Homo sapiens: one gene and its partners. Changing the gene in region 2 together with the main gene of any one other region gives a genetic interaction. Each region holds a gene or a part of one and is shown on either strand. Other genes may lie near its edges. The genes, in order: GBF1, TMEM131L and PTAR1.

Region 1 (3,657 bases), on a different chromosome or scaffold from region 2:
TCACTTATTCCAGGTAAGACAAGATTGCTAGAGGGTCTCAGAGCCTCTTTCAAGGGCCAGGGGAACACAGGGAGGTCTGGCTGATTACGCAAAGAGTATAGGACCTAGGAAAGCATCTCCCTCCCAGTTGGCTAGTAGTTTTAGTAAGAGGGTTCCAGTAGTTCCCCAGGGACTCTGGCAGCCAGAGAGAAATATAGGAATGGCTAGATGTAGAGTTCCCTGGAAGCAATGGACCTCAGTGACACCTTCACTCAGTTTGCCTCTTCTGCCTCTCTTGGTTGAGCCATAGTCAGCTTCAGAAACCTCACAGCCGGGCTGGGTGCAGTGGCTCACGCCTGTAATCCCAGCACTTTGGGAGGCCAAGGCGGGCGGATCACGAGGTCAGGAGATTGAGACCAGCCTGACCAATGTGGTGAAACCCAGTCTCTACTAAAAATATCAAATTAGCTGGGCATGGTGACGTGCGCCTGTAATCCCAGCTTCTTGGGAGGCTGAGGAAGGAGAATATCTTAAACCCAGGAGGCAGAGGTTGCAGTGAGCTGAGATTGCGCCACTGCACTCCAGCGTGGGCAACAGAGTGAAACTCCGCCTCAAAAAAAAAAAAAAAAAACTCATGGCCTACCCTGCTCTCATCTCCAGCTACTCAGCATAGAGCGACTAAACCTTTATGCTGCTTCCCTGCGAGTATGCTTCCTACTGTTTGAGAGCATGCGAGAGCACCTCAAGTTCCAAATGGAGGTGAGTTTCTTGATGTGGAAAGAAAAGGGGGAAAAAAAATAGGGAGATATATGGCATCTTCAGTGGGGCCAGCTCTATCATGCTACAGGGGTAGGATTTAGGGACTTCCTATAGGAGAGTCCTTTTAGCCTCCAGAGTTCGGTTCAATCAACTGGCCTCTTTTGTGGAAAAGTTAAAAGGAGACCAAAGGAAACTGGCTGACCCCAAATATGAGAACTGCCAGGTAACCTTACCATGAATAGGGACAGCTCTTCTGCCCAGCAGTTACTCTGCAACACAGGTAGGTAAGTCAAGCCAGCATTGTCACTAAATTGCTAAAAGGAACTCTAAATAGGACCAGGTCATGTTCACATAGCACAAAAGGGCAAGAGGCAACTTGTCTGGGACCAGGTATGTGGTAGAGAGCCAGGCCTTATCCCCCAACATGGAGGCCAAAGAAGAGATATATTTAGGGGATGGAATACCTTTGGGTGTCTCTTAATACATGCCTCTAGGCTGGGCTTCTGCATCCTGTTTAATGTTTTTCCTGTCTAATTTTTTCTCTTCCTATCTTGAATCCTTTCCCCACCCAAATGGCAATTACTGGGTTATTGCCAGATGTACATCAAAAAGCTTATGGAGATCATCACTGTGGAGAACCCCAAGATGCCTTATGAGATGAAGGAGATGGCACTGGAGGCCATTGTGCAGCTCTGGCGCATCCCCAGCTTTGTCACAGAGCTCTACATCAACTATGATTGTGACTACTACTGTTCCAACCTCTTTGAGGAACTCACAAAGCTGCTGTCCAAGGTGCTGAGCACTATAACTGGCTTCTAGGAAAAAACGCATTATAAAGGAAATCTCCCTGGTGGTAGTGAGGATGTTACATACAGAGAGGGGAACACTTGAGAGCTGGGAAATAGAAGAAAGGCATTTTCTTTTCTTTTCTTTTTTTTTTTTTTTTTTTTTTTTGAGATGGAGTCTCACTCTGTTGCCCAGGCTGGAGTGCAGTGGCGCGATCTCGGCTCACTGCAAGCTCCACCTCCCGGGTTCACACCATTCTCCTGCCTCAGCCTCCCGAGTAGCTGGGACTACAGGTGCCCACCACCACGCCCGGCTAATTTTTTGTATTTTTAGCAGAGACGGGGTTTCACCATGTTAGCCAGGATGGTCTCGATCTCCTGACCTTGTGATCCACCCGCCTCGGCCTCCCAAAGTGCTGGGATTACAGGCATGAGCCACCACGCCCGGCCAGAAAGACGTTTTCTAAGGGCAATGTACAAGTTAGAAGAAGTTTTGGAAATTTTAGAAAATGATCAAAGTGTAAAGTGTTCTCCTAACTACAAGTCCAATTGATCTGTTTACTTTCCAGAATGCCTTCCCTGTGTCTGGTCAACTCTATACAACACACCTACTATCTCTTGATGCCCTATTGACAGTGATTGACAGCACCGAGGCCCACTGCCAGGCTAAAGTCCTCAACAGCCTCACCCAGCAAGAGAAGAAGGAGACAGCCAGACCAAGCTGTGAGATAGTAGATGGCACCCGAGAAGCTAGCAATAGTGAGAGGCATTTCTTTCTTTGATGAACCCAGTGTTCTATGCTTATCCCTTCTCTACTCTCTGAGTCGTTTTTCCTGTCCCCATATCACTTCCCCTGGGATGCTCCCAATTCTGTTTCTGGGCTTTGGCAGTTTAAATCACAGGCCAGTCAGGCAGATTAGTAGAACTCATAGCCTTCTCCCTTTTTCCTCCTCCCCACTTTGGTTTTTTACAGAATTATTATTTCTTTATGGCAAGAGAAGAGAACAGAGATTAAAGAATATAGGATTTCTGTCTCTGAAAGCTCCAGGTCCCACCATCCCTCATCCCCAATATCTGCCTCCACTCTAATTAGTCCTCTCTAGCTCCCCCTTGAAATTTGAGGTTGCAGAAGATCAGGGAAAGTGACTGGGTAATCTCTTCATTAAATTAGAGAATCTAATGCTTGGCTGGGACAGGGACTACTTATTTTGGCTTGGGTTTGTCCTGCTCAGGGCTGGCGCCCTGTGCAGGAACCATGCAGGTCTTCTGGGCTTGGGATTTGATCTATCCTGCAGCTCTGCTTGGCTTCATACCCTATAAGTCTTCACGTATCTTCTTCTCTCTTACCAGCTGAGAGAACTGCCAGCGATGGGAAAGCTGTAGGCATGGCCTCAGACATCCCAGGCCTGCATCTGCCAGGTGGAGGGCGGCTGCCACCAGAACATGGGAAATCAGGATGCAGTGATCTGGAGGAAGCTGTTGACTCTGGGGGTGGGTACTGGGTGTCCATGACCCTAAGCTCCTCACCTGGAGGGCCTGGTGAAGAGCAGAGGGAGGGAGCAGACACCTAGGATAGTAACTAAGCAAGCCTTGGTAGCCCGCCTCGCCTTCAGACTCAGAGAGAGGGAAGCAAACATATGGACCCTCAGTTGATAGGACTTCCAGGGAAGTGGAAGACTGGTGAGGACAAGATTTCTGAGGCTCCTTCTTGAAACTGGGGAGTATATTGGTGACCTTCCAAAAGTCCTTATCTGGGTAAAAAAAGGTGTTACAGATATTTCCCCCCTCTTCTTCCTACTCCTAGCTGACAAAAAGTTTGCCCGGAAGCCACCCCGATTTTCCTGTCTCCTGCCAGATCCACGGGAACTAATTGAAATTAAAAACAAAAAGAAGGTACATACATGTATTCCCCAGCCTCTGTCCACCTCTGTCTGGGTGTCCAGTGTTGTAGGGTTTCCATCTCAGAAGATGAAGGAGAGTCTAGCACCTCATTGTACAGCTTCCTGAGGCCAGTCTTTGGGCTTGTTGGGACTTCAGCAACTCCCATTTGAAGCCCTTCCCTTACTCCTAAGCTATGTAGTTGAGCATACCCTATGTATGCCCCTGCGCAAATGCTGTACCAGTTGAGAGCCAA
Region 2 (3,657 bases):
TAAGTCCACTTCAGGCGTGTGCACCACTGCCAGGGGAAACGGTACAAACGGGTTGGACTAAATGCACCAAGAATGCATGTGTGCAGCTGCCTAGACCACATTCCCCTCAGAGGACTCCAACTTTCTTTTAAATTAGAAATGTCCTTATACAGAACATTTAAAATTCAGTTGAGGATTTTCACCAAATGCATAAAAGCTCATCAGAAGTAGTCAATCCATAATATTTCTGTACCTCTTCTCCAATATCAAGAAGTGAAAAAGATGAAGTTATATTTAGATGCTTCAAATAAGACAAAAGGTGACTGAGTTTTCCAGATTAAAAATTGTCAAAAATCTGACCATAGGCTGGGAGCAGTGGCTCACGCTTGTAATCCCAGCATTTTAGGAGGCCAAGGCAGGCAGATTGCTCGAGCTCAGCCTGGCTAACATGGTGAAACCCCATCTCTACAAAACAGTACAAAAATTAGTTGGGCATGATGGCATGTGCCCGTAGTCCCAGCTACTCAGGAGGCTGGGATGGGAAAATGGCTTGAGCCCCGGAGGTGGAGGTTGCAGTGAGCCAAGATTGCGCCACTGCAGTCCAACCTGGGTGATAGAGCCAGACCTTATTTCAAACAAAATAAAACAAATCTGACTATAACAGGTACAGAAATACGTATATTCAAATGGTCAGGGTGGACAAAAAAAGAAAATAAATAAGCACAGGCCCTTATGCTAGAGGCCAAAGGGATCTATTAAAGGATAATGACAATTCCCAATGGAGGTCATCCTCCTAGTCTACTTTGGCTTGTATTTTCCTTAACTGTTTTTGGTACATGAGAACATCTGTCTTCTTTTAACCAAGGAATACAATTAGAGAAGAACCAGGGCCAGGCAACCTGAGATGGTGGCAGCTGTTAAATAAAATAGCTGAAGTTTTGTTCAGTCAGAAACATTTCATGGGCTGATTAATTTTTACAGATAGTCTGAAAATCTGAGCTAAAAAAAATAATTTAGGCCAGGTTCGGTGGCTCACGCCTATAATCCCAGCACTTCTGGAGGCCAAAGGGGTGGATCACTTGAGGTCGGAGTCTGAGCCCAGCCTGGCCAACATGGTGAAACTTCGTCTCTACTAAAATTACAAAAATTAGCCAGGTGTGGTGGCACACACCTGTAATCCCAGCTACTCGAGAGACTGAGGCAAGAGAATCACTTGAACCCAGGAGGCGGAGGTCACAGTGAGCCAAGATCACACCACTGCACTCTAGCCTGGACGACAGAGCAAGACTCCATCTCAAATAAATAAATAAATAAAATTAGAAAAAGGTGTCCATGTCCATCCCAACAAGAAAATATGATATTCATAGTCTTCTAAACTTATGTACTAAAATTTAAACCTCTTAGTCACAACATTTTAAAAGCTTGATGTCTTGTCTTGAACTTTTCATTTTGTCTTTTTTCAATATTTAAACCTTTGCTAAAACTCAGCATCCACAATTAAAACTAACGGTCACAGGTGAGAACAATTCCATTAAAAACAGACTGGGTACAAACAGGAGAGAATTATCAAAGGGGATGAAAAGATTACCATTATTTTTCCTGGAAATTTCTGGCAAGTCTGGCTGGTGGTACTGAGGTGAGTTTCTTGGTAAATGGTTTTCAGGTAGTTTCTTGGAGGTCTTCAGTGGACAGAGCTCCCGTTCCTTGAACTCGGCTGTGTTCTCTGAAGTTTTAATGTCAGTTTCCTTAGGAAACATACATGTCTGTATTCCCTCCTTCATACTACATTCTGAAGAAGGATTACTGAAAACAATTGTGTTTTTCAGTGTGTTTTCTTCTTTATTCAGTAAGTTTTTGGGAAGGGTTAAATTCTTCTGCAGGTTGACATTTATGCCACTTGCATATCTGAGGCTGATCCAGTTCTCACGCATGGCATCAGTGCAAATGTCCTCTTTAGCAGCAGGCAGTGAGCTGCCCAGGGGTGAAGTCTGTTTTTCCTCAGTAGTCGTGCTGGTGCTGCTGGCCGCAGCTGTGCTGGTTTTGTGTTTACTGTAATACACTGAGCATTTGTGCTTCTTCTGAGAATGACCATAGGTGGCTGGGCTCCTCTTTGCAGCATTCTGGATCCTGCTTTGGGGAGTGTTCACTGGAAGGCAGTTCTTCCCCCTGCCTTTATCAGAGGGGCCATATGTATCGAGAAAGTTCTTGCAATTGCTTCTGAATTTAAGAAGAAAAACATTTAGCATAGAGGCAAATCAAATCAAACTCTACTTGTCTGCTTCCATATCCATGAGAAAAGGGTAGCAATCAGTACTGAGTGTAAGTTTTACCTTCCCTTCTTCCAAAGCTCCAAGAGTTTTCTGCCAATGAGAATACCCATCAACTAAGTCCTTGCATGGAGACTATCTCATAATAATAATGGGGCAGCTGTTCACATAATGACTTAAAATTTTATGAAAGCAAATGTAGAATCAAAATTTATGTTTACTTAAAATTAAATCAGAAATGAGTAATATCAAAAGTGAGAAACCGCCCCCGCTCCCAACCACACTATAAGAATTCTTACTTGTAAGAATGGGGGCTGATTACATCCATAGGACCATTGTTTTGCTGTGAAGAGGAGCTAGCATTTTGCCTCTGTCTTGTTTTCATGAATTCCATGAGAATGTACTGTGCTTGTTGGAAGGCTATTAAAATCACACCCAACAGGGACAAACTGAGGAAGAAAGCAACAAGGTTCAGTATTGCATGGTTCTGACTGGCATTCAAAAGACTAGTTTCATTACAGAAGAGTGGGGAATGATTTACGAAAAACATCTGAAGATGCAGTATTAAAATTCCCTAAGATTTATCACATAATTTCTGATGTTCCTTAAACACACACACAAAAGTTTCCAAAATTGTGCATATTTATAAATTTGACATTACAATTCCATTTTTATGAAATCACTCAAAAAGGGTCATTCCAGCCTCCTAATCTCAAATCATCACTGCATGAGCTAACACAAGTAATTAACATTCATATCATCCACCATGACTGCCTATGAACACACTATATATGGAGCACAACTGTCTATGATACTTCTAGGTCCTATGACTCTCTTACGATTAGTTTACTATAACCTTAAAGTGTACCAGTGAATACTTCATGGATGTCACAGTTCTTGAAGCAGTAACAATTCCACTCAATTCATATACTTTGACTACACTCGGGCAGTTCACGTTTTCACACAACTTGCCTGGATGACTTCTCTACTCAGTGAGAGAACAAGGGAGACAGTAGTGGTTTACCTGACAAAGAAGACCGTGAGCCTCCAAAATGACTCCTCCCAGCTGGGTCCTGGAACCACGTCTGCACACAAGGGCAACAGGTGATGAGGGAGAGTCACATTGAGAGTGAAGCGAAATTCTAGGTCCGCTGCGGTTACAAGACTTAGGTCCCGAATTACCCAGGAGGAGGTAAAGTCTGGAGTGAACCTGAAAATAAAAGAGTCATCTTTATGAACTTTTAATTGTTTTGATTTTAGCCACAAGGCAAAATAATGACAACACATCATACTCCTACAAAAGAAATATTTACATTAAAACAACATAAGATGTCTTAACAATAGAAAAAGTTTTCCTCCTCACATTGTTAAACGCACCACAAAACTGAAATCAAGTTAAAGCCCAATGCTT
Region 3 (3,151 bases), on a different chromosome or scaffold from region 2:
TGCATTATATAAAATGTAATCCTAAATAGTCAAGGGATAAAGTAAGATAGGTCTTTCCCATAACACACTTCTGAAATATTTAAAATTTGAGTTAAAAAAAGTATCCACTTTATCAAACACTTTTTGGAGTCTATCTATGTATTATATTGTGTAAGTAAGACCACTATATCTGGCTTATAACATACAGAAGTGAGACTCAGGATTGAGAAAACATAGGATGTAACACTAAAATAACCGAGTAATTATATGTGCTCTACAGCTTCATTTGAAATGGATGGGAAAAAGCGTATCTAGTCATAATAACTTTTATAAGGCAATTAGTCACTGTTAATACAATTTAAAAACAACTGTGGCGATATCTCTAATTTGTTTTTGACATTTCTTTTATGTTCTAGACATAGTGGCATTTTTATTCTTTCTACAAATGTAGGTCATAAAATTATTGGTTTCATTTAGACAACAGTTCACACCTCCACCCCCCTACCACCATCAAAGCAAATAAAATGGAAAGCTTGGTAGACTAGACTCAAGTTTAAAGCACCAAAAGTAAAAACAAAATCACACTTAACACTCATTTTAGGAGATAAAAGGTTTACTTAGAAATTGCAAACATTTAGCAAAGGTAAGACAAATACTATTTTCCATATTCTACAGAAATACAATACTTTATAGCTGGCTTGGTACATGGTCACATAAGAACAAATCTAATGGAAAAAGAATATTTCATTCTACTTTTCTGCCACTTATCACAGTGTAATAAGTGCCAGTAAGTCCTGGAAGACAGTTGCAGAGGAAGATTAGAATCCCAGGGCTGTTTGTTAATATACATGATTATATTGTAAGAATAATATAAAAACAAAATAGGTAAGATATACAATTAACATGCAATTTAAGCTATATTATTTTGAAGAAACAGGACAGAATTTAGTGAACGCAACTTAAAAATTTGTTAATGTAGTATAATCAGCATATCATGGTATTTTACATGGTATGGAATTATTCCTCCTTAATAATGCTTGGCAAATTGGAACAGGCTGATCCTACTTCTAGAACATATTAAAATGAAGATGAAGGAAAACAAGTGGATAATTCTATTAGATGCTTTTCTAAATATTCTGAATTTTTAAAGTACCATAATTACAGGCCTACCTCACCATCTCCAAAGTTAAAGTCATATTTTATACTCTATGAATCTGTACTGTCCAGTATAGTAGCCCTTAGCCATATGTGACTACTGAGCACTTAAAATGTGGCCAGTCAGAATTGAGATGTGCTGTGAGTGCAAAATACACTCAAATCTAAGACTTAGTATGGAAGAAAAAGAAGATAAGGTGTTTCATTAATAATCTTTTATATTGATTACATGTTGAAATGATATTTTTAATATACTGGGTTACATAAACTGTTATTAAAATTAATTTTGCTTGTTTCTTTTTTAATATGGCTACTAGAAAATTAAAAATTATGTTGTGGTTCACATTATATTTCTGTTGAACAATGTGGACATAGATAATCTACAGTCATTACATTAGCCTTAGAATTTAGCATCATACTTTTAAGCACTCTGGGGTACTAACTTGAACTCCCAGAAACCCATAAGCACACTCTGCATATAAATTATTGCAAAATTCATTCTTATCTCTCTGAAAGATATGCATTTTAAGGGTAAAAAGAATTCACAAAATATTGAATCCTTAACAAATGTCAATTAGTATATGGAGAGAGCTAAAGGACTTCAATGTAGACTGTTACATTGGGGAAAAACAGATCAAGAAACATAGCAGTACAACAGAGGGAAGACCATTAGTCTCTTCAGTAAAATAGTTAGCCAAACTTATCTTTAATGGCCAATGCCTGACCCTGCACCATAGATTATATATGTAACTTTTCCATTTAAACATAAACTATAAGAAAATCTTAAAACAATATTGACGGCAGCTTACTTATATCTTCAAGCAATGTAAAATTAACAGGCATGGTTAATTTTAATGGCAGAATATAGTAGCTGAGAACTTCTTTTAAATGAAAGCTCCTCCATGTTAAATTATGCAATTGACTAGTGTCCACAAAATTCGAGTCAAAAAAAAATTAGACGCTATTAAAATCATAACTGGCCTTTTTTTTTCTCCCTCTCCTTTTTTAATCTTTTGTAGTGTATAAATATTTGGCATACTTATAATACCTCATCTTTTATTTTTTCCAACTCAAAAACAGTAAGTTAATCTAAGAATGCATTCCATTATTTTCCTAAAAACAACATATGCCAAAGTACAATACTGACAGTGGTCACCTCAGTCAGCAGCCAGCATCGAAGTCATGCATCAAGAACCTCGCCAGGAGGCAATGCCTAATTACATTTGTACTATACACTCTGTTCCTCACAGTTCAGGTAGGAATGTTTATTTGTGTTTTATAAAACTGTTTAATCTTTTTACATTAGGTAAACTCTGTCAAAAATGCTTTGAAAACCACAAATTAACAGATGCTGAGACTACTGTATCATTCACAAAAAGTTCTTCCTCATGCCAAAGATGTTCTGAGAAAACAAGCAGAAGTTTATTGTAACTTCACATTTTACCATTACCACTCTTAAGACGCTAGAAACAAGTAAGATTTAAGGAAAAATAAAAAGAACCTAAACCCGATAGTACTGGATATACCAATACAGAGACTGATTGCAGAAGACTACAGCAGTTCTCTCTAGAGTTCAGCCAGCTGCTTATTAAGACATTTAATTACATTTATTAATATGCCTTGCACAAGAAAATACTACTTAATCTTTCACATCTCCTATCTTTCAACTATGTTCTGTATAAATAATACTTCTATTACGTTACTAACTCCAGCTTAAATAAGCCTCATAAATCATGTCAAATGATATAATTTCAAAATTCCACACATATATTACTCTACAAATATACTCCTTGGTGAAAAGATGTCAACAGTCTCCTTTCTGAAAGCTGTTAGTTTGATGTTAGATCAATCACTGACTAAGCATTTATTGAGCATCTACTATAACTGTACCCAGTCTTTAACTAATAAGAAAAAAATACCTGCTCCAAATGCAAGATGATATTTGTAAGGGAGGATAATTTATCAACTTTTTCTAATAGAATGCTCCTTGAATCAATATCTGCCATATGAAATTATA

What was found.
Region 1: changes in TMEM131L (region 2) and GBF1 together harm fitness more than expected from each alone (negative genetic interaction), as found in Homo sapiens cells (one study listed by BioGRID).
Region 3: changes in TMEM131L (region 2) and PTAR1 are lethal when combined (synthetic lethality), as found in Homo sapiens cells (one study listed by BioGRID).

The regions. Positions count from the first base shown.
Region 1 is NC_000010.11:102,360,383-102,364,039, forward strand, and holds part of GBF1 (Golgi-specific brefeldin A-resistance guanine nucleotide exchange factor 1), read left to right. Parts: coding exon 1-13; intron 14-639; coding exon 640-738; intron 739-1,335; coding exon 1,336-1,530; intron 1,531-2,092; coding exon 2,093-2,282; intron 2,283-2,873; coding exon 2,874-3,014; intron 3,015-3,327; coding exon 3,328-3,416; intron 3,417-3,657. UniProt on the Homo sapiens protein: Guanine-nucleotide exchange factor (GEF) for members of the Arf family of small GTPases involved in trafficking in the early secretory pathway; its GEF activity initiates the coating of nascent vesicles via the localized generation of activated ARFs through replacement of GDP with GTP.
Region 2 is NC_000004.12:153,602,341-153,605,997, reverse strand, and holds part of TMEM131L (transmembrane protein 131-like isoform 1 precursor), read right to left. Parts: intron 3,457-3,657; coding exon 3,271-3,456; intron 2,696-3,270; coding exon 2,546-2,695; intron 2,197-2,545; coding exon 1,568-2,196; intron 1-1,567.
Region 3 is NC_000009.12:69,708,951-69,712,101, forward strand, and holds the end of PTAR1 (protein prenyltransferase alpha subunit repeat-containing protein 1), read right to left. Parts: 3' UTR 575-3,151; downstream 1-574.